7 linked regions of the Homo sapiens genome follow. The protein of the gene in region 4 interacts with the protein of the main gene of each other region in a biochemical or structural test. Each region holds a gene or a part of one and is shown on either strand. Other genes may lie near its edges. The genes, in order: NCOA4, NFKBIB, NPAS2, RXRA, CTCF, BMAL1 and POU2F2.

What was found.
Region 1: the proteins of RXRA (region 4) and NCOA4 form a complex in vitro, tested with the Homo sapiens proteins (one study listed by BioGRID).
Region 2: the proteins of RXRA (region 4) and NFKBIB form a complex in vitro, tested with the Homo sapiens proteins (one study listed by BioGRID).
Region 3: the proteins of RXRA (region 4) and NPAS2 form a complex in vitro, tested with the Homo sapiens proteins (one study listed by BioGRID).
Region 5: the proteins of RXRA (region 4) and CTCF form a complex in vitro, tested with the Homo sapiens proteins (one study listed by BioGRID).
Region 6: the proteins of RXRA (region 4) and BMAL1 form a complex in vitro, tested with the Homo sapiens proteins (one study listed by BioGRID).
Region 7: the proteins of RXRA (region 4) and POU2F2 form a complex in vitro, tested with the Homo sapiens proteins (one study listed by BioGRID).

Annotation. Positions count from the first base shown.
Region 1 is NC_000010.11:46,013,624-46,017,123, forward strand, and holds part of NCOA4 (nuclear receptor coactivator 4), read right to left. Parts: intron 3,072-3,500; coding exon of another isoform or gene 3,058-3,071; coding exon 2,917-3,057; intron 1,644-2,916; coding exon 1,503-1,643; intron 1,320-1,502; coding exon 1,231-1,319; intron 930-1,230; coding exon 821-929; intron 17-820; coding exon 1-16. UniProt on the Homo sapiens protein: Cargo receptor for the autophagic turnover of the iron-binding ferritin complex, playing a central role in iron homeostasis. Acts as an adapter for delivery of ferritin to lysosomes and autophagic degradation of ferritin, a process named ferritinophagy.
Region 2 is NC_000019.10:38,906,179-38,909,389, reverse strand, and holds the end of NFKBIB (NF-kappa-B inhibitor beta), read right to left. Parts: intron 2,170-3,211; coding exon 2,081-2,169; intron 1,992-2,080; coding exon 1,731-1,991; coding exon of another isoform or gene 1,683-1,730; exon of another isoform or gene 660-1,682; coding exon 558-659; 3' UTR 501-557; downstream 1-500. UniProt on the Homo sapiens protein: Inhibits NF-kappa-B by complexing with and trapping it in the cytoplasm.
Region 3 is NC_000002.12:100,823,139-100,826,638, reverse strand, and holds part of NPAS2 (neuronal PAS domain-containing protein 2), read right to left. Parts: intron 1-3,500. UniProt on the Homo sapiens protein: Transcriptional activator which forms a core component of the circadian clock.
Region 4 is NC_000009.12:134,430,955-134,434,454, reverse strand, and holds part of RXRA (retinoic acid receptor RXR-alpha), read right to left. Parts: intron 2,551-3,500; coding exon 2,459-2,550; intron 354-2,458; coding exon 248-353; intron 1-247. UniProt on the Homo sapiens protein: Receptor for retinoic acid that acts as a transcription factor.
Region 5 is NC_000016.10:67,635,526-67,639,677, forward strand, and holds the end of CTCF (transcriptional repressor CTCF), read left to right. Parts: intron 1-1,164; coding exon 1,165-1,326; intron 1,327-2,162; coding exon 2,163-2,347; 3' UTR 2,348-3,652; downstream 3,653-4,152.
Region 6 is NC_000011.10:13,382,290-13,385,789, reverse strand, and holds part of BMAL1 (basic helix-loop-helix ARNT-like protein 1), read right to left. Parts: intron 1,311-3,500; exon of another isoform or gene 1,066-1,310; intron 102-1,065; coding exon 1-101. UniProt on the Homo sapiens protein: Transcriptional activator which forms a core component of the circadian clock.
Region 7 is NC_000019.10:42,094,447-42,097,946, forward strand, and holds part of POU2F2 (POU domain, class 2, transcription factor 2), read right to left. Parts: intron 1,798-3,500; coding exon 1,636-1,797; intron 1,484-1,635; coding exon 1,342-1,483; intron 1,248-1,341; coding exon 1,099-1,247; intron 1,017-1,098; coding exon 840-1,016; intron 1-839. UniProt on the Homo sapiens protein: Transcription factor that specifically binds to the octamer motif (5'-ATTTGCAT-3'). Regulates IL6 expression in B cells with POU2AF1. Regulates transcription in a number of tissues in addition to activating immunoglobulin gene expression.

The sequences.
Region 1 (3,500 bases), on a different chromosome or scaffold from region 4:
AGTGCTCAGGAATTTGCTACAAAATAGAGATAATTTAATCATGTTATTTATGCTATGCTGCCAAAAAAGTGAAATTATAATTCCAAATTTCAAAAATGTTAAAGCATTACCATTTCATTAGAAATACTGTTCACACTAAATTCCATGACTTACAAAGTAGTTATCAAATTTGAGAATACTCTACCACATAACTATTATATAAAAAATCTTTACCAGAATTGGTTGTATTACCACTTTTAACAAGACCCAAACGTTTCGTTCTTTATTAAAAACTATTCAAGCCATAAATTTTACAAAAAATATTTCAAAAGTATTTAGAGAGATACATGAGGCATTCCAAAGAGTATCACTGAGTCTGTACTACATTCCAAGAACTACCAACCTAGGCAACTTAATCAGAATATGAATTTTTTTTTTTTTAGGCGGAGTCTCACTGTTTGTCGCCCAGGTTGGAATGCAGTGGCACGATCTCAGGTCACTGCAACCTCCGCCTCCCAGCTTGAAGCGATCCTCCTGCCTCAGCCTTCCAAGTAGCTGGGATTATAGGCGCCCAGCTAATTTTTTTGTATTTTTAATAGAGATGGGTTTTCACCATGTTGGCCAGGCTGGTCTTGAACTTCTGACCTCAAGTGATCCGCCCTCCTCGGCCTCCCAAAGTGCTAGGATTACAGGCGTGAGCCACCACGCCCAGCTGAGAACATGAAATTTTTGAAGCTAATCAAATTCTCAAGAAAGTCACTATTCATAGCAATTTTTTTTAAGACCAGCTGTGAGGCCACAGATATGAGAAGTGCCCAGTGAAGCATATGAGATTACTCACAATGGTTTTGAGAGACCCAAATGTGGTGATGGTCTGGCGCAGAGTAATTGTGTCAGCTTCAAAGAGCAGGACAGTTGAATCTTCAGGCTTAAGGGTCAAACTGCCCAGTCTGGGGAAAAAAAAACAAAATTGGCTATTTTTAAGGAATATCTGTTTCATCAACTTCATCTAAAACAAAAGCCAAATTGTGAGTAATTTTAAATGATTACACTTCTCTAAGAAACTCAACCAAAGATAGATGGCTTATTCATGTATCAGCAAGTATAATATTAAATACATGAAGCAGAATGATCTTATCCTAGCAACACAGAAGTTAAATATAACACAAGCAATGAGTTACAAAATCGACTTTCTTTTAGTATACCAAAGTTCAAGAGTCAAAAGTTAAAATACGCAAAAAGGGTCATTACCTCTCCAGGCACACAGAGACTTGATTGGCTAGATCTTTGTTTTGGGTACACTCCAGTTGATGAGTAAGACAATTGAACTGGCCCAATAACTAAAAGAAAAATGAAACCAACTAGCCACAATGACACCAAAAGCACCAGATATACTCAAGTTACCAAACAGCACTTGAGATTAAACTTCTATCTGATCTATATTAACACTGCATTACAAGGAAGATACTCTCTGGCAACCAGAAGCCATGCTCAAACCAATTCTAGCCATGCAGTCACCTTACCGAGTAGAGCTGCTGAGCCTGCTGTTGAAGTGTCTCCTCTTTAAGCTGATAAATAAGGTCCACCTGTTCATACAGCCATACCTCACGGCTTCTAAGACATTCCAGGTGACGGCTTATGCAACTGTGAATCTGAGCTTTGACCTAGGAAACACATACATGTTAGCTTCCTAGTGTTAATCCCAAAGAATGATGTTTCCCAAAGAATAGTGAGTTTCTAAAACTTTTTTTGGGGGGGTGGGGTTGGGGGGACCACAAATCCTTTTAATTATCCAATGACATCTATGAAGTATCTCCCCAGAAAAAATGTATATTTTCAAGATTTTACCTATAATTTCAGGGTTTAGTGTTCCAAAGCCCACCCAAGGACCCACTAAAGCCCTATGGACCCCAATTTAAGAATCCTAGCCATAAAGGCATACCTAAACTCTAAAATCCTTCTTCAATACCCAGCCTTCTAAGAGGATTAGGTTTAATTTGGGTGTCCTAATCAAGAGAAAATACAAGAATGTACCAGGAAATACTGACCCCCTCAGTTTTCCACATAATTTAAAAACCTACGGTTTTACAAGTTTATCAGCAGAATAAAGACAGAGTATTAACTTAATAGCTAGCCCCTTATCTCTTTTCTCACCCCACAGAATGAGCGGTCCATTTACAGGAGGCCAATTTAGTAAAGAGATGTGCCACCACATGTCAACAGCTAAAAGACCATTAGGGTAGACAATTTAAGTAAAATTATAAACTAATATTTCTGGAAGCATAAACAGTGATTCAAACAGGGCTAAATATAAAAATCCCAAGGGAAAAAGTCAAAACAGGCCATAAATTATCCGTGACAATATACATAAGAAACTGTATTTTAAAACACATTTTTTTCTGTTTAATAAAGTTGTGTTTCAAAGTCATGTAATACTTGGTCTAACACACACAACAACAAAATACTACTGGAACCAACAACAGATTTCACTCTGGCTTGCCCTAACAGATAGTCATTTACAGAACAATGCCATTAACCAGCTAAAAGATGATGGGGAGGATGCTCAAGTGCATCCTTCATGCAATCAAGAGGATGCAGCTGAGAGGATACTGCTCACTCATTTCATATTTTTACTGGTCACAGTGCCTGAGGAATCACACAGAGGAGTAATCAAAAATCTAAGTAGTTAGTAATCTAAGTAAGCTGAATAGAATTTTCTAGAATGGCACAGGGTTTTCCAGACTCTTCTAGCATCTGCCTTATTTCCCCTTGGGATGAAAGGCACCAGTATATCAGGCAACTGACGGGGACCAAGTAGACCACGCAAGGCATGGGGTGAAATTTTTTGCTGGCACGGAGAGACCAAGTCCTTGGCCATGCTCAAATCAGCCCTGTGTCAAGAGTCCAGACAACAGAAGAGAAAAGCACATGTCACACCTCTCGCAAGTTATCTTTAATTTGCTGTTCAGCCCGGAGAACTCCACCAATAGCAAGCTCCAAGTCCCTCCGTGCATCACTACACCTCAAAAGGGGTTCTCTATTACTGGAGCTGCCACTCTGGTCTTGGAAGGTATTCATTCTCCTCACTGCTCCTTTAAAAGAAAAAAATATATATAAATAGCACCATAATTACAACCAAAAACCACCTTTGAATCATCCCTCAAATGATCATTCCAGCCAACTCCCATTACTAACTACTTAGATTACTTTCCAACACCAAACCTAGCACATAAGATACTCTTAATAAATATTGTCTCCTCCCTTCCCTCTACCACTGTTCCTGCCATAAAACTCTATAATCTACTTTAGTGACACTTTACATGTGAATAGCTATTTCTGGAAAAATACACTAATTGTCCTGAATCAAAGAGCATACAGTGTCCTGAAAAGTTAAAAGAACATTAGAATATCATTTTCTATTTATAACACACATATAGTCATATGAGGCATGTGTTCCTCTTTGTAGATTTAGAGATGAAGACTAAAAGGTACAGAAGGATCTTTGATTACTTTCAAAATAA
Region 2 (3,211 bases), on a different chromosome or scaffold from region 4:
ACAGTGACCGAGGTGGCCTGCCTTTGAAGGTGGGTGCTGACTACCCCGTTTCTGACCCCACCAGGAAAAGGAGGTGGAGCAGCTGGAGCACTTGAGAGACGAACTGAAGAAGGTGACAGAGACGCTGGGGGAGCAGCTCAGGAGGGAGGGCTGACCCCTACCTCAGTCCCTCCTTCCTCCTGACACACCCTGTGGCTTAGGACTGTTGACCCCGAAGCCTCCACCTCACCTAGCACCCCACGCCACCCCTACCCAAACAGGGGAGGAGGCGGACGTGCCTTGGAACCACACCCAAGGAGGTGAGTCTGAGCTGGGCCGGGGGCTGGGCTCAGCCCTGACACAGGAAGCACCCCCACACCTATGCACTCCCACTCCAACCCTTCTGAGTGAATAAAGCACAAAGAAACGCACCCTGCCTCCGTGAGCAGCACTTGATGTGACAGGGATGGGCCCCAGAAGGACCCGGAGGACTGGGAAGACAAGATCAGTCTGGTCTCTGGTTGTCAGAACTAGGGTTTTGTTTATTAAACTGGAAATTATATTAACAATGAAACAAATCACACGGGGCGGGGGTCGTCAGGAAGAGGTTTTGAGGCTGGGGTGGGAGGCAGCCGGGTTTGGCTGCGGCTGCTGTGAACCACAATGTCGTCGTATTCATCCTGGGGGCAAAGGGGACCAGGCAGAGGGGCTCAGGCGGCTGTCACTTTGCCCACCACCCATGTCCTCATAGAGCACCCTAAGAATTAGGTCTCGCCTCAAAGCCCAAGTTCCCCTGCTCCTGGCTCAACCTCCCAGTTTCCTAGCTCTCAGAACTCCATTTTCTTTTCTTTCTTTTTTTTTTTTTTTTTTTTAAGATGGAGTCTCGCTCTGTTGCCCAGGCTGGAATGCAGTGGCGTGATCTAGGTTCACTGCAACCTCCACCTCCCAGGTTCAAGCAATTCTCCTACCTCAGCCTCCCAAGTAGCTGGGATTATAGGCATGCGCCACCACGCCCAGCTAATTTTTGTATTTTTAGTAGAGACAGGGTCTTGCCATGTTGGCCAGGCTGGTCTCGAACTCCTGACCTCGTGATCTGCCTGCCTCGGCCTCCCAAAGTGCTGGGATTACAGGCGTGAGCCACCGCACCTGGCCAGAACTCCATTTTCAAGGTCATTTCTACAGACCAATTTCTAGCCAGCCGCCACTCCAGAGTTTCGGCAACTGAGCTGGCCCTCCTCCACCCCTTCCCTCTGCCTTTACCCAAATTCCTCCGCACCCATCATCCAGCACCGCGCCTTGCCCAAGGACGGATCTGTATTGCTGGGTTCTCTGACTATATCTCTCCCCACCGCTGGCTCGGGTCCTGCCCCAGCACTGCCGGTGTTCAAATCACTGCCACCCAAGGTTTTCTTTTCGCAGTGTGAGTTCTCCAATTCTTGCTGCCTAAAATCACCCCCAGCGCTACCACCCACCCCCGCTGTGTTCACCAATCACTGCGACCAACGCCTTTTCTCCACCCCTGCCTGAGTTCTACCTTTGCCACTGCCTTAGTTTTTCAGCCACTTCTGCCCAAGCTCTTCCCACCACCCCTGTCCAGGTCTCTCCTGACTAGTGCCCCGTGTCACTGGCGCTGCTGCCTGAGTTCTCTAACAGCAGCCCAAGGTCGGTGCCTAATTATCTTCTTGGGCTTCTTGCCTGCCGGTCTATCCTGACCCCCCAGCTGGGCTGCCCTGTCTCTCCTCCTGACTCACGCCCTCGTCTCCGCTGTCGCTGTCGCTACTGCTGCTGCAGGGGCCGGATTTCTCGTCCTCGCCCTCGGGCTCAGGGGCTCCGTGTGCACGGAGGAGGCGGGCGAGGATGGGGTTGGGCCGGAGCATGGCACTGCCGAGTGGGGTGCGGCCACCGTACATGCGGGCAGCAGGGTTCGCGCCTGCCCTCAGGAGAAGCTCCAGCACATCGGCTGCCTGGGCCTCCACTGCCAAATGAAGGGGGCTCCGGCCGCACGTGGGCTCCTGTGGGGGTGCAACAGAAAGGTCAGAGGGCCCGAAGAGGGGACAAGCCCCCTCCCGCCGACGGCATCTTCCCCGAGGTTGGGGCTCACCGGTTTGTCAAGGTCAGCTCCAGCATCTCGGAGCAGCCGGACCATCTCCACATCTTTGTGGATAACGGCCACGTGGAGTGGGGTGTGGCCTGGGGACAGAGTGATTGGCGTCAGATGATGAGGTGAGGGCCCCCCCCACCCCACCGTGCTTTGATCCTGGGGGAGGGTCATGTGGCGTGAGGGTGATTAGGTTTGGGGGCTGGTTCCTGAATTCTTGGGTATGGCAAAGAGGTACCTGGGTACCAAATGCCTATCTCAGATGGCCTGAGCTTGCTGGCAAGTGCTAGTGCCTGAGTTGTTTGAAGCCTGGGGCCCGCGGGTAAACAGCCTGGGGTCTGTGGACAGGGAGCCTGGATTTTGGGGCCAGGAGGAGACCCAAGTCTCTGCTCTTATCACTCAAAGGACCTGAGCTGGCACGCTATTTCACACCTGTAATCCCAGCACTTTGGGAGGCCAAAGCAAGAGGATCACTTGAGCTCAGGAGTTCAAGAAGCTGCCTGGGCAACATGGCAAGACGTCTCTACTAAAAATAAAAAATAAAGGCCAGGCACAGTGGCTCACGCCTGTAATCCCAGCACTTTGGGAGGCTGAGGCGGGTGGATCACGAGGTCAGGAGATCGAGACCATCCTGGCTAACATGGTGAAACCCCATCTCTACTAAAAATACAAAAAATTAGCTGGGCATGGTGGCGGGCGCCTGTAGTCCCAGCTACTCGGGAGGCTGAGGCAGGAGAATGGTGTGAACCCAGGAGGCGGAGCTTGCAGTGAGCTGAGATGGCGCCACTGCACTCCAGCCTGGGCAACAGAGTGAGACTCCATGTCAAAAAAAAAAAAAAAAAAAAACCTTAAATTAAGGTTCCTGCCCAGGCACGGTGGCTCACACCTGTAATCCCAGCACTTTGGGAGGCCATGGCGGGCAGATCACCTAAGGCCAGGCCAGGAGTTCAAGACCAGCCTGGTCAACATGGTAAAACCCCGTCTCTACTAAAAATACAAAAATAAGCTGGGCATGGTAGCATGTGCCTGTAATCCCTGTAATCCCAGCTACTCGGGAGGCTGAGGCAGGAGAATCACCTGAACCTGGGAGGTGGAGGTTGCAGTGAGCCAAGATCACGCCACTGAACTCCAACC
Region 3 (3,500 bases), on a different chromosome or scaffold from region 4:
AGTCAACTCAATAGATTATTTATTAATAGGGATGGGTTAAATAACGTCCTATTTGTACTTCTGAATAATACTCTGTAGCCTTTAAAAATAAAGAAAAAGGTATGTCATTAAAAATCCATGCCATATTAAGTTGCTAAATAATATACATAAAATGAGTTCAGTTTTTGTTTTTATTTTTTAGTTTAATTTTATTTTTTTGAGACAAAGTCTTGCTCTGTTGCCAGGCTGGAGTGCAGTGGCAGGATCTTGGCTCACTTCAACCTCCGACTCGCTGGTTCAAGTGATTCTCCTGCCTCAGCCTCCTGAGTAGCCAGGATTACAGACATGTGCCACCATGCCCAGCTAATTTTTATATTTTTAGTAGAGACAGGGTTTCACCATGTTGGCCAGGATTGTCTCGAACTCCTGACCTCGTGATCCGCCCGCCTCGGCCTCCCAAAGTGCTGGGATTACAGGCGTGAGTCAGTGCACCCGGCCTTAGTTTTTAAAAGTGTACATATGTGTGTGTATATGTAAATGCGCCAAAAATGACTAGCAGAACATGCCCCATGGTTATCAGTCATTACCTCCTGAGAAAGGTGGAGAGTTATGGGATGCTTTTGGCTACAACAGAAAAACTAGCTCAGTTTGCTTCATCTGGTAATGGTTTCATGATCTCACACATGTTCAAAAACAGACTCTTCTTTGTGTAATTCAGAAAGTCAAGGGCACCACGGAGACCTCCCCGCCCCCTGCCCTTCTTCACCTTTGCATTCTTCCGCAGGTCAGCTGAGACCTGGCCCAGCCCCTCTGGTGGCTGATGGCTGCCCAGTTTGCAGGCATTATGGCCACATATCACAGTATCTAGTGGAAGGAAAGGACTGTTTCCTTCCTTGTCTCTTTTGAGAGCAGGGAAACTTTCCCAGAAGCCTCCCAGTGGCCCACCCTCACATTTTATTGGCTAGAACAGGGTCCGCATGCTCACCCTGAGCCAGTCACTGGCAAGGGCAGCAGCCCCACCCTCACCAGGGTTGAGTGGCCAATCTGATAAACCTCCAGAGGCAGGTGTGGGTTGGCAGTCTACTGTACAAAATCCAGTTTCTGCTAGGCAAATAAAAGATAGGGCGATGATTATGGGTAGGCCACAAGGATGAAGGGAATTTTTTTTCTTTCTACTAGAAATGGTTCTGTGCTATTTGAAAATTTTTACAAGATTATATCCATGTGCTTTTTAAGATAAACTAATATAAAAATATTTCAATGCATAGAAAAAACACTGAACGGAAAATATATCTTGAAATTGTGGGGTTTTTTCCTTCTTTTCTATCTTTTCCAAAAACTATGTACTTTTATAAACAAAAAACCAATAATTTTCAGATGACCTCGAGCTCTTAATATTTTATCACCAAGGGGCACAAATATCATTCATAAAATTGTGCATGTCATTTTTGGCTCAGAAGAGGCTAGAAGAATCACGCCACTAGGTTCTGTCACCTCGTCACCTGTCTGTCTTTAGATGGGCCTGTGTTTTCTGGAAGCCTGGATGATTTTCAGTGGTCTGGGAACATTATCTGCCACGGCCTTCAGCAAAGCAACAAAGTCCACAAATTGAGTCCTAGGGTCCAACCTCTCAGCTTCAGCCCCCACCACTGCTCCCATTTCCATCCTGGTACTCCCATGCCTGACGATGCCTTCCTTTCCCTCTCTCGTCTCCACCCTCACCCAGGCCTGCCTTGGCTCCAGGGGGTTCCTCTGCTTTTCCTTCCCCCTAAACATCAAACTGCCATTGCCATTCTCTTAGAACTTGGTTTTCAAGATTTACTTTCAGGGAGCGTGGAAGGCAAATGGTAGCAGAGAAATCGCCTTTGCAAATAATAAATGGAATCCCAAAATATATTTTAAAAAATCAGAGTGATGTTGGTTGAAGTGTTTTCAGGGCCACCCAGGTGACCCCTCCTAATATCAGGGTGAAGGACACCATTGCCTTGCAATATCCATCTCTCCTAGATGGCAGGAGGAAGCAATATCTTAGAGTGCAAAGCATAAAAGGCACCCCAGGTGAATTCCAACACGCTCGGCACTAGTTTCAAGTAACTCGTACTATGGTGGAAAGACAGATTGATGGCTTTGATCCTGGAAAGTGACCCACCACAGAATAGACCAATGCCCCTCAAAGAGGAGAGGTGTTTGTCCTCTCCACTACATTTTTAAAGAGCGCTTGATTGCCACTAGCAGTCTTGATCAACAGAACCTACAGCTTAAGTACCAAGAAAAGCTTCAGATGAAAATATCCTAGGAAGGGCTATCAACAAAGCAAACCAGAAGCCAGGGACTGCAGGAGAGGGTGGAGATAAGCATGCTCCCAATAATTTTCCATTTTGCCTCTGATTAGCTTCCACAGCTGCCTGCCCTCCAGCCCTGGCCCGGTTCTCCACGGCCGGCCTTGGGTTTGCTGGTAAACCAAATTGAATCTCTAATTGGTGAACTACATGGAACATATTTTAGTAACCTCTTCGTCCTCCTTGCTTTCCAGCCTCCTCTCTCCTATCAACAGTAATAAAAGCAATCACTTTTGTTAGGCCTAACACGCGTCCTTTACTGGTAATTCTACAAACTTGGCAAGGTAAGCATCATTTGCACTGTTTTTCTGACAAGGACTCTGAGTCTCAGGTTAAAAGTTGCCATAGCTGAGCTGGGAGGCTACCCCAGGTCTGTCTGACTTCAAAATCTGCATTTTATTTCTTGCCAAGTCACAAGGCTCTCCATTCAAATATGACTACAGGTCAAGGTCAGCAATGTGGAAGCCCTACCAGCAACTCTCCTTTCCTGGGCCCCTTTCTGGCCACCACCCCAGAGAATGGCATCCCAGAACCTCATTTTCAGTTTACAATCCCTCTCTCTCTCCCTGCCACCTCACCTTGTTAGCTCCTCAAGGGCAGGTACAACCCATCTTCTCATTTTTTTATCATCTGGGCTCTCTATGTGGTATATGCTCAGTAAACATGCTGAACTGGATTCAGTGCATCCCAAAACCTTGCCAGCGTGCAGCATCTGGTAGCTGTGAGAAATGCAGCTCGGGTCCTCTCCCAGGTGTCCTGAGTTAGAATCTGTGTTTGACAAGGGCCCCAGGTGATTCTCGGGCACTATGATATCCAGCATCCTCCATCTCCTTATACAGTTTTTTTCATACCAGTGTAGAGGATCAACACTCTCCTTTCTATTCTGAACCATCAAATGGAACCACCCATTGTTTTAAGACTTGCAAAAGTTCAAGTGGTCTCTGGGGGAACTTTACCTAAGAAATGACTTTGCTTAAAATGCCAAGGACTCCTTAATCTCAGTTAAAGAATTCAAGTGAGAAGCAGTTGTGCCTTAAAGACTGCATTAAAAACTCCCCCTTTAAACATACGCTCATATTTAATACATGTTTATTTAGTGCCCTGAGATACTATTAATCATCATCACCTTGAGATTTAAAATAGAATTACTCATAGTTAAGTACCCCATTAGCATTCAGAAAT
Region 4 (3,500 bases):
AAGCACCTACTATGCGCCAGGTGCAAGGTAATCCTTCCAGTGGGGATACGACGTGGGCCTGTGGGGTGTGCCCGCCACAGCCCACTGGCCTGGAGGACCTCCTGCTGCCTGCTCAGGACCTGCTGGCATGGGCTGGGCCTGGGGAGGGTGCCACCTTCTCATTCACATAAAATGGCCTTGCAGGGGGTGGGGGCTCTGGAGACAAGAGCCTGGGTCTGGGGTGTGTGTGGGACGGGGCGGGACCCACCTTCCCGGCTGCTCTGGGTACTTGTGCTTGCAGTAGGCCTCCAAGGACGCATAGACCTTCTCCCTCAGCGCCTCCACCTCGGCCGGGTTCGAGAGCCCCTTGGAGTCTGAAAGGAAGAAGCCACAGGTCAGAACCCTCAGCTGGGGCGTGTCTCGGGCACCTGCCCCCAGGACCCAGGCTTGTGTGGGGTCTCCCAGGCTGCCCCACCATGGGCAGAGCAGGTGGTGGAGGAATGCCGCTGGACATGCCTCCGCCCGCTCCCCCAGAGCCTGGTGGCAGGGGGACGACTGTGGAACCCACGGCCAGGCCAGGCTGCTCTGGGTCCAGGCTCAGCTCTGCCACTTGCCAGCCACGTGACCTTGGGTCAACTATTTGACCTCCAGAGACTCGGTTTCCCCATCGATAAAGTGTCAGGGATCTGCTGCCTTCCTTCCAGCCGCCTTGGGAACTGGGAGAGACAATGGATGCTGCTGCTGCCCTTGGGTCCCAGCCCCATAACATGGATGGGAGATAGCGCTGCTGCCCCCAGGAGTACCCAGACCCTGCGGAAACCCATCCTCGGTGTGCTTGCGGAGTCCTGAGCTCAGGACCCGGGCTCAAGAGCCTAGAGTGGACAGAGAGGCTAAGATTGCAGCCACCAAAACCTCCAAGGCCCAGGGACCCCCTGTGAATGCCACCTTGGCCCCCAAGGCCCAGGGACCCCCTGTGAATGCCACCTTGGCCTGTGTCCTGGGCTCCTTGGCAACGTACCTGGCTCCCCCAGCTGCCTCCGCTCCAGCCAGTCTCCTCGCCCTCCCTGCATGCCTGTGCCCTGGTCTCTTCGCTTTCCCTGCAAGCCTGTGCCTGGACCCTGCTTGTGCCAGACAATCTCACCCTCCCTGCAAGCCGGTGCCCAGGTCCTGCTGGTGCCCCAGCTCTAGCAACCAGACCACACAGGACCTGAATGGGGATTCCTCGGGCCGGGCCGGGCCGTGGCATGACTCAGCCTCCGAGCTGGCAGGATTACGGCCCGGATGCACAGCCTGGGTGATAAAATGACCCTGGAAACAAGCTCTCCCCACAAGAAGATGCCCATCTCCATCCCGGCCCGGTCCCTCAGAGCCAGGTCTGACAAAGGGCAAGGTCAGAAGGTCAGGGCCAGGAGCCGAGAGGGCTCCACTCCCTCCACCATAGCCCAAGTGAGCTCCCCACAGCAGCCCCAAACCTCTCCCTCCACACCCCAGCCACCTGCCCCTATCACGCAATGAGCTGAGTTTCCAAACACAGAAACCCATAGCTCCCTCCCGGCTGGAACCCCTCAGGACTTGGCTCCCTGTGGCCCCAAGAAAAAACCCAAACTTAGCAAGACTTTCAAGGCCCTGCCTGGGCTGCCTCCACCAGCCCACCCCACCTCCGTGCCTCTCACTCCCCTGGCCCCTAACTTGCAGCTCCCGGAGGAAGTGGCCCGCACCCTCGACCAACCGTGCTCCTGCCCTCACGTGCCGGGGGTGCCTGCTGGTGGGCGTGACCCTCTAAACCCCAAGCTCTAGGCAGGCAAGCCCTATCCAGCAGCTTGAAGGGGCCCTCCCATGCCAGCAGGGCACCGAGCAAACAGGCACGTGTCAGCACTTGTTGGGCGAAGGAGTAGCACCTAGGAGGCTTTTCAAGCCGAGAACCCAGAGGCTGGAGAAGGGCCGCACTGTCGGCCAGGAGGCCTGTGCCCAGCCCCAGCCCCACAGCCCCAAGCCCTGCTCTCCTCAACCACAGGGGCCCAGCCCCAGAAACACCCTGGACCCGAGGCTTGGGGATGAGGTTGGTCCCCTCTGGAACACCCGGCAGGCCTGACCCATCCCCAGCCTGCAGGGCTTGGGACTCCTGAACTTCAGCACCGGAAGTTCACAACCACAGCTGGCCACTTTCGGAGTCTGGATTCCGACGCACAGTGATGAACACTATGAACCGCGGAGCCCAGACGGCACCACCAAGCCCCTCATGACAACTGCCTTGCTGGGTCCCCCTGTGCCCAGGGACCATGCCCCCTTGGCTGGCCCTCAAGGTGAGCAGAAGGCAGCATGGCCACACTTTCACTGGGAGGGGGGCACACTGAGCTCAAGGAGGGTGGGAGTTGGCCCCACATGTAGCCAGAGGCAAGAAGTACAGCCAGGAGGAGGCCCAGGCACCTCTGCCCCACCAGAGAACGGGGCCAGAAGCCTCAAGGCAGGAAGGCCATACCAGGGTTAAAGAGGACGATGGCGCGCAGGCAGCCCAGCTCCGTCTTGTCCATCTGCATGTCCCGCATCTTGGACACAAGCTCCGTCAGCACCCTGCAGAGGAGGAGGGCAGACACCCCATCCCAGTTAGGTCGCAGCCCTCACCAGGGCCACACCCCAGATACCCAAGGCCTCTGGAGAGCCCGGCGTGGCCCGAGGGCCGCTGAGATGGGCCAAGCCAAGGCAAGGACTCCCAGACACCCCGAGAGGGAGTGGGCTGGAACCCAGGCCCAGGTGCCGCCCCTGCCAGGCCTGCCTGGCCCTGCCCGGAGGGTGGGCTCCTCTCCTCTCCCTCTAGGGTCTGCCTGCGGGGCTTTATTCTGGGAACCGAGGTGCTAAGGAGGGGCCTCGTGACAGCTAAACTGAGGTGAGCCGCAGCTGCACAGAGGGCACAGAGTCCACCCCTCCCGAACCCAGTGAGACACACCACTGTCCCTCCTCAGCTGTGGACCCAGCACCACCTGAGGCAAAGCCCCTTCCCATGCCACAGCCCCAGCCGCTCCCTTCAGTCCAGGAAGATACCTTTCCCCAGGGCCTGGTGTCCCTGGGTGGGGGCTGCCAGAGGGAGGCATGTCTACTTCTTGTCACCAGAGAAAAAAAATCCACCAGCCTCAACACGGGGAAAGCCCGCCAGCTCCCTCCATGGAGACGCTGGGGGCGTTCTTGGATTCAGACTCAGCTGCCCCAGCCCTGCAGCTGGATTCTGAATCACACCAGCCTCTGCAGTGTACTGGGCCCCCTAGCCTCAGCAGCCTGCCCACCAACCCCAAAGCTCAACTGCTGTGTCCAGGAAGTAAGGGTGGGCCACAGCGGGGGAAAGGAGGTGACCAGGTGGGGATGGTTGCCTAAGGAGCCTGGGCTCTCCCCTGTGGGCCAAGGGCGGCCCTGAGGGTCTGCAGAATGGGGAGTGCCCTGGTTGATTCCTGGAAGAAGATCTGAAGGAGGCTGGAGAACAGGGTGGGACAGAACAGGAGCTGGGAGGGACCCCCGATGTCTGCTCTGAG
Region 5 (4,152 bases), on a different chromosome or scaffold from region 4:
TGTGGCCCAGGCTGGAGTGCAGTGGCGGATCTCAGCTCACCGCAACCTCCGCCTCCCAGGTTCAAGTGATTCTTCTGCCTCAGCCTCCCGAGTAGCTGGGATTACAGGTATGCGCCACCACGCCCAGCTAATTTTATATTTTTAGTAGAGTCAGGGTTTCTCCATGTTGGACAGGCTGGTCTCAAACTCCCAACCTCAGGTGATACACCCACCTCAGCCTCCCAAAGTACTGGGATTACAGGTGTGAGCCACCACGCCCAGCTGCCAGTTTCTTATTTCTTGTAGAGATAAGGTCTCACTATGTTACCCAAGCTGGTCTTGAACTCCTGAACATGAGTGATCCTCCAACCTCAGCCTCCCAACGTGCTGGGATTACAAGTGTGAACCACCGTGCCCAGCCTTAAATTGATTTTTCTTAATAATTGGCTGAGCATGCTGGCTCACACCTGTAATCCCAGCACTTTGGGAGGCCGAAGCAGGCAGATTGCCTGAGGTCAGGAGTTTGAGACCAGCCTGGCCAACATGGCGAAACCCCATCTCTACAAAAAATACAAAGATTATCTGGATTGGCTGGGCACGTTGGCTCATGCCTGTAATCCCAGCACATTGGGAGGCCGAGGCAGGTGGATCACCTGAGGTCAGGAATTCAAGACCAGCCTGACCAATATGGTGAAACCCCATCTCTACTAAAAATACAAAAATCAGCCAGGTGTGGTGGCGTATGCCTGTAGTCACAGCTACTCAGGAGGCTGAGACAGGAGAATTAAACCCAGGTTGCAGAGGTTGCAGTGAGCTGAGATCGTGCCGCTGCATTCCAGCCTGGGCGACAGAGTGAGACTCTGTCTCAAAAAAAAAAAAAGAAGGAAAAAAAAATTACCTGGGCATGGTGGTGCGTGCCTGTAGTCCCGGCCACTCAGGAGGCTGAGCCACGAGAATTGCTTGAATCTGGGAGGCAGAGATTGCAGTGAGCCGAGATCGCGCCACTGCACTCCAGCCTGGGCAATAGAGTGAGACTGTCTCAAAAAAAAAAAAAGAAAGAAAGTGTATATATATATATATATATATTTATAAAACAAGACTTCAAATAATATATAATTGTTTTCTTTCATCTTCCACCACCCTTCTCCTTGCCCCACCACCTGTGCTTCCTGATTTCATGAAAAGAAAATGCTGAACCAGATCTGGACGACAATGAGGATGAGGAGGAGCCTGCCGTAGAAATTGAACCTGAGCCAGAGCCTCAGCCTGTGACCCCAGCCCCACCACCCGCCAAGAAGCGGAGAGGACGACCCCCTGGCAGAACCAACCAGCCCAAACAGAACCAGCGTAAGTTGTTCATCTCTGCTCTGGAGGCTGGCGTCTTCTCCGAGCATGTGGGGGAGCCAGATGGGTCCTTGTTCTTTGGGGATGTGGGAACTAAGCCATGAGAACAAGTTAAGGGCATGTCGAGAACAAACTCTCAGGAAATGGCTTTTTAGGAGTTTTTACTGAGGAACATCTGAGGAAGTCTTTAGAGGCCTGTTACATTTCAAGAAGAAGTCCAGAGTAGAAGGGTACTTGTGTTCTGCAAGATGGGTACTGTTAATGTGGGCGGGTTTTGAAAAACAACCAAAGTCACAGTCAGCTGGCAGAATGGATGCGGTAATGAATATAAAAGAGCCAAATCGTAAAGGTTGGAGAGGGAAAGCAGTTTCTGCACTGAGATTGCCCCTTCTAAGAAACTCAGGGTCAGGCGGTGGCTCATGCCTGTGATCCCAGCACTTTGGGGGGCCAAGGCGGGAGGATCACCTGAGGTCAGTAGTTCCATACCAGCCTGGTCAACATGGTGAAACCCCATCTCTGCTAAAAATACAAAAATTAGCCAGGCGTAGGGGTGGGCACCTGTAGTCCCATCTACTCAGGAGGCTGAGGCAGGAGAATTGCTTTAACCCGGGGGGCAGAGGTTGCAGTGAGCTGAGATCATGCCCGTGCACTCCAGCCTGGTCATAGAGCAAGACTCCGTCTCAAAAAATAAAATAAAAAATAAATTGACTGTCTCTGGACCGCTATCTAATAAGGCTGTCCTGCATTGCTGACATCCCGTTCGCTGTCAGTCTAAAAGACCCTTGTGATTCTTGGGGCTTTAATGGACCATTTGTTCTGTCTGTGCTCTTCTTTGCCAGCAACAGCTATCATTCAGGTTGAAGACCAGAATACAGGTGCAATTGAGAACATTATAGTTGAAGTAAAAAAAGAGCCAGATGCTGAGCCCGCAGAGGGAGAGGAAGAGGAGGCCCAGCCAGCTGCCACAGATGCCCCCAACGGAGACCTCACGCCCGAGATGATCCTCAGCATGATGGACCGGTGATGGCGGAGCCTTGTGCGTCGCCAGGACTTCTCTGGGCTGTGTTTAAACGGCCCGCATCTTAATTTTTCTCCCTTCTTTCTTTTTTTGGCTTTGGGAAAAGCATCATTTTACCAAACATACCGAGAACGAAAACTTCAAGGATGATGTTAGAAAAAAATGTGATTTAACTAGAACTTGCTGTCTGATGTTAGCAAATCATGGAATGTTCTGAGTCCCTGAGGGTTTACTGTGAAGTGCTGAGGACAGTGTTGACAACTAACTCGTTTTCCTAGATGGAAACGGAGACATTGACCCCTCCCTCCATGTGGTAAACCACTCCAGAATGGCCACCAGGCTTCCCAGAGTTCTATGGTCTTCTTCCCAAGAGAGTTTTTAATTGTAAATGCATACTTGGGAAGGACTTAGAGTTTTAAACTGTTTTTTGCTTTTGCTTTTCCCTGACTCCCTTTGCTTGGAGTCAGCTGCACACCAGTAGTATGGCATGCTACGATCAGGTTCTGTCCTGAAAGCTTTGCCTCTTTCTTGGCAAAGTTTCTGGTATGGTCAAGCTTGTAAATAACTTTTTTTACATTTTAATCTTTTCCATTAATTAAGAGGTTGAAAAGAAGTGCAGTGTAAGAAAACCCAGCATTTTAATTACTTGCAAATTAAGTTACCACAGACTCTGTAGTGTGTAAATGTTGACAAGGAATTGGATCACAATCATGTAGCAGAATGGCACCCAGACCACTGCCCACCAGTGACGGACATGCACGTGGCAGATCATGATTTCCAGCCCACGGAGCCAGCATTTGAACCTTGTATAATTAACTTTCAGTTATGATTTCCCATCGACATTTTCTTTGCCCTGTTTGTAGCTGATTGTTGTGTTTTATAAATCTTCTGTTAAGGCAGAAGGGTGATTATGAGTGGTTCACAGCAGCCCTTATAAGCTGGGCCAGAAAATTTCACTAGGTCAGTAATTTAAACCTTGGATCTTCAAAAAATAAAATAATGTGAAGCAAAACCAACTAAAAAGTGATTCTTGCACATGAACTGTCACATGTTTAAAAATGTGTTTTTTAGAGAGCCTCAGTCTTACTGATTTCAAACACTTTTTTCTTCTGTGTATTGCTTTTAAGAGAGCCATCAGTTAGCTATCAGACTCTAGGTTGATGCATTTTGTACTTAGCTGTACTGTGTGATATTTTTCATTATTTTAGGACGCCAACATGAGACCTGTAATAAAATATGTAATGGGGTTGAAAGCTGGGGAGGAGGATCTACTGCTGTACAGCTAATAAATCATAACGGATTAACAAGTGCTCCAAAGACTCCATCTTGCGTGATTCCTGCCTGCTTGAGGGAGGCTGGGGGGCTGCATACATGGTTCCAGGCTGTGCAGGCTGCTGCCTTTCACAGGCAACCTCTGTTCCCTGGGATGGTACTTTCTCTAGCAGATGGGACGATATGATCTTGGCGGGTGACTGGATATTGAGCGCATCCTGCTGTAACTGTTTTTTTGTTTTGTTTTGTTTTGTTTTGTTTTGTTTGAGATGGAGTCTCGCTCTGTTGCCCAGGCTGGAGTGCAGTGGCGCAATCTCAGCTCACTGCAACCTCCACCTCCCAGGTTCACGCCATTCTCCTGCCTCAACCTCCCGAGTAGCTGGGACTACAGGCGCCTGCCACCATGCCTGGCCAATTTTTTGTATTTTTAGTAGAGACTGGGTTTCACTGTGTTAGCCAGGATGGTCTCGATCTCCTGACCTTGTAATCCGCCTGCCTAGGCCTCCCAAAGTGCTGGGATTACAGGCGTGAGCCACCAC
Region 6 (3,500 bases), on a different chromosome or scaffold from region 4:
AGAATAGAAGAACTATCAGAATATGGATAACCTGGGTTCTCCTGAGCCTGGCCTGATAGTAGGCCACTGGAAGGAATGTCTGGAGTCCCTCCATTTAAAATCTACAAACAAAAGGAGGGAAGTGTGAAGTTTGAATCAGTATTATGAGCAATGCCAAAAGGAAAATGAAGCATGGGGTGGGGTGGGGAGAAGCTTCAAATGGCTTCAGTTTTCTATTGGATGATTTCAAACAAGGAACTGTTAGACAGACATGGTCAGAGTAAGAAAAAACCTCTCCCCCGAACTATTCTTTTCTCTCCATTTTAGTGAGCCCACAGAGGCAACTTAAAGGCTGAATAAAATCCCAAGAGCATTCAACTGCCTGGAATCATGATGCCCACATATTTCTTTAGGACCAATGCCTAAACTTCAATGAGCCCAGCTAGACGTTTCCCCTATAAGGGAATAAAACATCTTATAGTGACAGATATTTCTGAAGAAGAAAAAGTGGAGTTAACAAGCTGTGAAGAGACACAGCTCAAGGAGTCAAATGAAGAAAACAGAAGTAAATCTCTTATACTACAGGTGCCAACTTCAGTAACCTGTGGTTTAAGTTAAGACAGGCTACTGGGGAGGATTATTACTACTACTCAGTAAGAGAACTCTGTCTCAAAATCTCCCCCACTCACCCCAGCTGCCTTCCCCTGGCTGAGTCTCAAAGAAGAGCATTCTTTGAGACCTATCTGGATATACGTGAGGAAACAGTTTGGTAGCTGCTGCTTTCAGGAGCAGCAATGATTTCAGGCTTTGCCAGCAGGTGGCATTATAACTTACTTTATTTCCACAGCAACGTTTTGGTCTAGGGACCCTTTTACACTCTTAAAAAAATCATTGAGGACTCCAAAGAACTTTTGCTTATGTAGGCTGTATTTATCAATATTTACTGTATTTGAAATTAAAACTAATAGATTTCTTAAATGTAATAAACCCGCTACATGTTAACATAAATAATGAATAGTATTTTAATGAAAAATAACTATTTTCTAAAACAGTAACAAAAAATTACCAGGCAGAGTATTATCTTACATTTTTGCAAATCTAATGTCTGGCTTAATAATTTTCAACTGGATTCTCATATATGTTTTTCCATTCAGTCTATTTAGATACGTCTTGTGATTCAAGTATATGAAGGAAATCCAACCTCCCACAGATAAGTAGTTGGAAAAGGGAGGCATATTTTAATAGACTTTTCAAATAATTGTATTCTTTTTTGATACCACTTCAAAACTTGACACGTAGAAGTTTCTTAAAGGTGAGTTGCAATGTGGAATCTGAAACCATATCAATGAATGTTTTGTACTCTTTATATCTTGGCACTTAGGATGGATCTTTTACCCTTACATGATTTTGAAATACCTTGCATTGTTTAGTTACAAAATATTGGTTCACTGAGTTATGCAGATCTTCTATATATTGACACATTTCATTATAGAGCATCAAAATATCACTATTATTAATACTCCCTATCTCATCAACAACATTTTTTAAGTTTTAGGAAGATCTCAAGGTCAAAGTAGCAGAGACAAGTTTTCTAAAAATTCCAATTTTTGCTTGAAAGCTCAGATTTTATCATTGGCAACAAATGTCAGTCATTTTCCTTAAAGTGACAGGTTCACTTCATTCATTTCCAAAAAAAAAGTATTCTAAATACCCAAAACCGAATGACCATATACAATAAAAATGGTGTCCAATGAAAATAGTAGCTAGTTCAACTCACAACTTAATCACACAAGTAGTTTTTGAGACAAACATCATACTTTGGTATGCAGCACAAGTTCTGTGTACTTCTCATTTTGTCACAGAGCATTAAAAAGATGTGTGCTTGAGAATTTTATAAAAGTAATGATGGACATTTTCCCTCCCTCCCTCACTCCCTTCCTTCCTTTCCTCCTTCCCTCCTTGATAGGGTCTCACTCTGGTTGCCCAGGCTGGAGTACAGTGGCACAATCTCAGCTCACTGCAGCCTCAACCTCCTGGGCTCAGGTGATTCTCCCACCTCAGTCCCCGGAGTAGCTGGGATTACAGGTACACCACCACACCTGGATAATTTTTTTTGTATTTTTTAGTAGAGATGGGATTTCTCTATGTTGCCCAGACTTGCCTGGAACTGCTGGACTCAAGCAGTTTGCCTGCCTCAGCTTCCCAGAGTGCTGAGATTACAGGGGTGAGCCACTGCACCTAGCCATGATGGACAATCTTAAATGAAACTGGCTTTAAACTATTTTTTTACTGTGAGTGTGTGGTGGTGAAGAATACAATGACTACTAGTATAGTTTGGTGCCACTTGTCTGATTTTTGTAAAATGCCAGCAATTTTACCCAACCGTGCTTTTAGTATGAATAGTGCACATTATCAATACAGGGAAAAAATTAACGTTTTAATGTTATTAAGAAAATAGCTTTAACCTTGCAGACCCTTAAAAGGATCTTGTGCCCCCTCTCTTTCTGGAAAAAGACTGCAGATGACATTTGTAGAACTGCTGCTTTATCTGAATTTTCCTTAGTGCTTCTGGATGTCTGTACTCTCTTGCGACCTATGGAGGCTCACTTAGGCTTCCTTTTTAGCTTGATCCTGACAAACAACTGCAGGCTAAATGGTTCATTTTTGGACCTTCCAAATTTGAAAGTGACTGGAAAGGGCTGGGTATGGTGCACCATTTAATACTGCTGTCAGTTTTAACTGTCTTGTTTAAGCTGCTTTTCTTATAAGTCCTGCTGCCCAGGACTCATCTCGTGAGAACACATCCAAATTTCTTCTCACAGATCCATTTTATAATCCATTCTTCTCAAAGAAAAGGGAGAATTTTCATAAGTGCCTCAAAAATAGCTGGGGCTTTATGATGCAGAGCACAGCTTTTGATTTCTGGTAGTTGTTGATGTGAAAAGAATTGGAAGCCATGAGCCCAGGATTGTAGCCTGGGGGCCATACTTATAAAACGAACGCTGAGGAGCCTGGATCTTGTCACTATAATGTTGTGAAGGTGAGATGAGACAATGTATATGAAAGTTCTTTGAGTAATATTTAAGCCTATACTGGACTGATAACCTTTCAAAACCAAGAAGTAGAATCCTTGGTAATACCAGGAGTCAAGTCAAGTGCCTAAAAGTTAACTTAAGAAGCAGAGACTGGAAGACCACCCTAAGAAGATGGTGGATCCAATATGCAGGAAGGACCTGGAGGTATAACAGAAGAACAGCTAAGAAGACAGCTGGCAAGCAGTGTGTGTGTTGTGGGCAGGGGGGCGGGGGTCACGGGACACCAAGCTCAGACTTCATCTGTCAGTGGTATTTTGGGCCAAGCACTTTCACATATATTATCTCACAGTAGGACCTCGTGCAAAGATGCTGGCTACCCTAACCATTATTAGCTCCATTATAAAGAAAACTAGGGCTTGAAAGTTGTACAAGTTCACATAACTAGCACATGGCAAGGCCAAGCTTCGAACCCAGGTCTTACTTTGT
Region 7 (3,500 bases), on a different chromosome or scaffold from region 4:
CACCTTTGCATCAGCCCCAGAAACCTCACTAAATGTGACTCTCTCCTTCCCCAGCTCAAAACCACTCCTTACCTCCTCACTGCCCATGGTTCAAGTTCCAGCTCTTCACTGTAAAACTTGGGGTACATGCCCCCACTCCTTCCCCAACCTCATTCATATAAACTGCAGCACCAACCACACTAAATTGCACTGGAGTTTCTCAAATTGGGCTGGGCACACCCTGGCTTCTAGGCCTTAGTACACACTGGTCCAGGAAGGCTCTTTGCCTTCTTGTGGCTGGCTAACTCTCCCTTGTCCTTTAGAACTCAGTTCAGACAGTGCCTCCTTCACACCGATGGGGGCAGGGGCTCCTCTCTGGAGCATCACAGCTCTTCCCAGAAATGGAAATAAAAGGATGGGATAAAGGATGTCCCAGCTGTGTCTGATATCAAGTGGGCCTGTGTATAGCTGTGGACCTGAGAGTACACCCATGGGTGTGACAATTTCCCCGAACGGCAAATAAGTGCCTCTCCCTGCCTCTGTGTGGTTGTGAGCCTGTGTGTTCTAACCTGGACCACGTCCCTGGACATATATCCCTTCCTGTGTGGCTATGGCACTGTGATAACTCTGTGTCTGGCTATGTCGGTGTGTATCTAGGGGTGCTTGTATCCCCCATGTAAGACCACAGTTCCCTGGAAACCGTCCCTGTGTAACTGTGCCCATCTACGTGATGGCCTGTCTCCAAGAGTGACTCTTCTTGTCTCTGTTCTAGGCTCTGTGGACAACCAGGTAGGGTGGGCTTCACACAGGTGCCTGCGGAGCTCTGTGGTCTCCCCACCCCCCAGGCGGGCTCTTGGTACCATATGGGGGCTGTAGCTGGCCGGCTTCCCTGGGCTGGGCAGCATGGGGGCCGCACTGCAGGGGTTGATGCGTTTCTCCTTCTGGCGCCGGTTGCAGAACCAGACGCGGATCACTTCCTTCTCCATGTGCAGCTGCTCGGCGATCAGCAGGATCTCCTCTGAGGTAGGCTTCTGGTTCTGCAGGCAGAGGGCTCGTTAGCCCGAGGCCCACCGCCCGCCACCCCTCAGGTGAGGGCCACCCAGGAGAGGGGGGCCTCACCGCTAGAAAACTCTTCTCTAAGGCGAAGCGGACGTTTGTCTCGATGCTGGTCCTCTTCTTGCGTCTCCGGCCGGGCAGGCCGTCGAAACCCAGGCTGGGGCTGCTCAGCTGGTTGGGGCTGGGCAGGCTTGAGTCCACAGACATAGTCTCTGTGCGCCGGGGGAGACGTGAGCATGAGAAGGGGCCTCCCGCGGCCAGCGGCCACTGCCCGCCCCCTACGCGGGAACCCCAGCCTGGTCCCACCTGCATCGTTGAGCCACTTCTCCAGGAGGGGCTTGAGTTTGCACATGTTCTTGAAGCTCAGGTTGAGGGCCTCGAAGCGGGAAATGGTCGTCTGGCTGAAGTCGTTGCCGTAGAGCTTGCCCATGGCCAGGCCCACATCACCCTGGGCCAGTGGGGCGGGGAAGGGCCCGAAGTCAGGGTGGGGCCTTCCGGCACTGGGCCCGCTCCGCCCGCCCACTGGCCACGCCCCTCGCGGCATCTATCAACTGGCCACGCCCCCACGCCCACCGCCCAGCCTGCAAGGTGCCTCCAGACCTGCGTGAAGCCCAGCTTGATGCGGCGTTGCTTGAAGGTGCGGGCGAATTGCTCCAGCTCCTCCAGATCACTGGGCTCCTCGGGGTGGGATGGTGGCTCCAAGCATTTGGGGGGCTGCGGGTGCGAGAGGTGCGGGTCGGGCAGCGTAGGGCGGGTCACGGCCTGGTGGGGTGGGCAGGTGGGTGGGATGCAGGGCGGAGGACCAGGATGGGGCTCAGCGATGGGTGCACAGTCCCCCTCCCGCCCTCTTCGCCCCTGCGTTCCATCCGCCGCCTGCAGACTCCCCCCGCCTTCCTCCACAAGCACCGTCAATCCCTTTAAAGGTCCCTCCACATGCACTGTTAATCCCTTTAAAGGTCCGACTCTGCTGCCCTACATGGGTTTCCTCATTGCCTGGGACTCTCTGCACTGTCCCTTCACGCCTGCGAACTCCCAGAAGGAGCAGCCAGCTTTTTGTGCCAGGGCTCTTTCCCTGGAGCTGGAGGCAGTGGTTCATCCTCATCTCAACCTGGGAATCAGGGACTGGCCCTGCCACCAAATCACTGCTTAGCCCAGGCCTCACTTTCCCCCTCTGCAGGATGGGAACAATCACTGCTGTTCTGTCTACCCAGTGGGGCTGTTGAGAGAATCGGGTTAAAAATGAGTAGGTCGTGCAGACCCATGGACTGTACAATGCCAAGAGTGAACCCTAATGTCAGCTATGAACTTTGGGTAATAGTGATGTGTCAATGTAGGTTCATCACCTGTTACGCTTGTACCACTCTGGTTGGGGATGTAGATGATGCAGGAAGCTGTGCATGTGTAGGGGCAGAGATAGATGGGATATCTCTATATCTTCCACTCAGTTTTGCTGTGAATCTAAAACAGCTCTTAAGAAATTAAGTCCTAAGCAATGAGTAGATTGCAAATAAAGTAAAAGTTAAGAAAAAAAAAAAAGGACTGGGAGGGCAATTAGAGAGATTTACAAAAAAGCAACAGCTCTATCTGGGATTCTTCATTGCCCTAACAATAAAGGATATGAAGCAGGTGGTGGGTACAGGGATGTTTGTCGCTCAGGTCCTTTATCCATTATTCTCCAAAATGCTGGGGCAGATGTTTAGGAATTTTTCAGTTTTTTTTTTTTTTTTTTTTTTGAGATGGAGTTTCACCCTTGTTGCCTAGGCTGGAATGCAATGGTGCGATCTTGGCTCACCATAACCTCTGCCTCCTGGGTTCAAGTGATACTCCTGCCTCAGCCTCCCGAGTAGCTGGGATTATAGGCATACGCCACCACACCCGGCTAATTTTGTATTTTTAGTAGAGATGGGGTTTCTTCATGTTGGTCAGGCTGGTCTCGAACTCCCGACCTCAGGTGATCCACCCGCTTTGGCCTCCCAAAGTGCTGGGATTACAGGGGTGACCACTGCGCCCTGCCTTTTTTTTTTTTTTTGGTATAAATTTAAGGACAGCCGAGTGCAATGGCTCACACCTGTAATCCCAATACTTTAGGAAGCCAAAGTGGGAGGATCGCTTGAGCACAGGAATTTGAGACTAGCCTGGGCAACATGGCGAAACCCTATCTCTACAAAAATTTTAAAAATTAACCAAGCATGTGGGGCGTGACTGTAGTACCAGCAACTCAGGAGGGCTGGGGACTGCTTCACTTGAGCCCAGGAGGCTGAGGCTGCAGTAAGCTGTGATCACACCACTGCACTCCAGCCTGGGTGACAGAGTAAGACCCTGTCTCAAACAAAAAACAAAATGTTAAAAGATACAAGTGCAATTTTGTTACACAAATGTATTGTGTAGTGATGAAGCGTAGGCTTTTAGTGTATCCATCACCCAAACAGTGTACATTGTACCCATTAAGTAATTTCTCATCATCC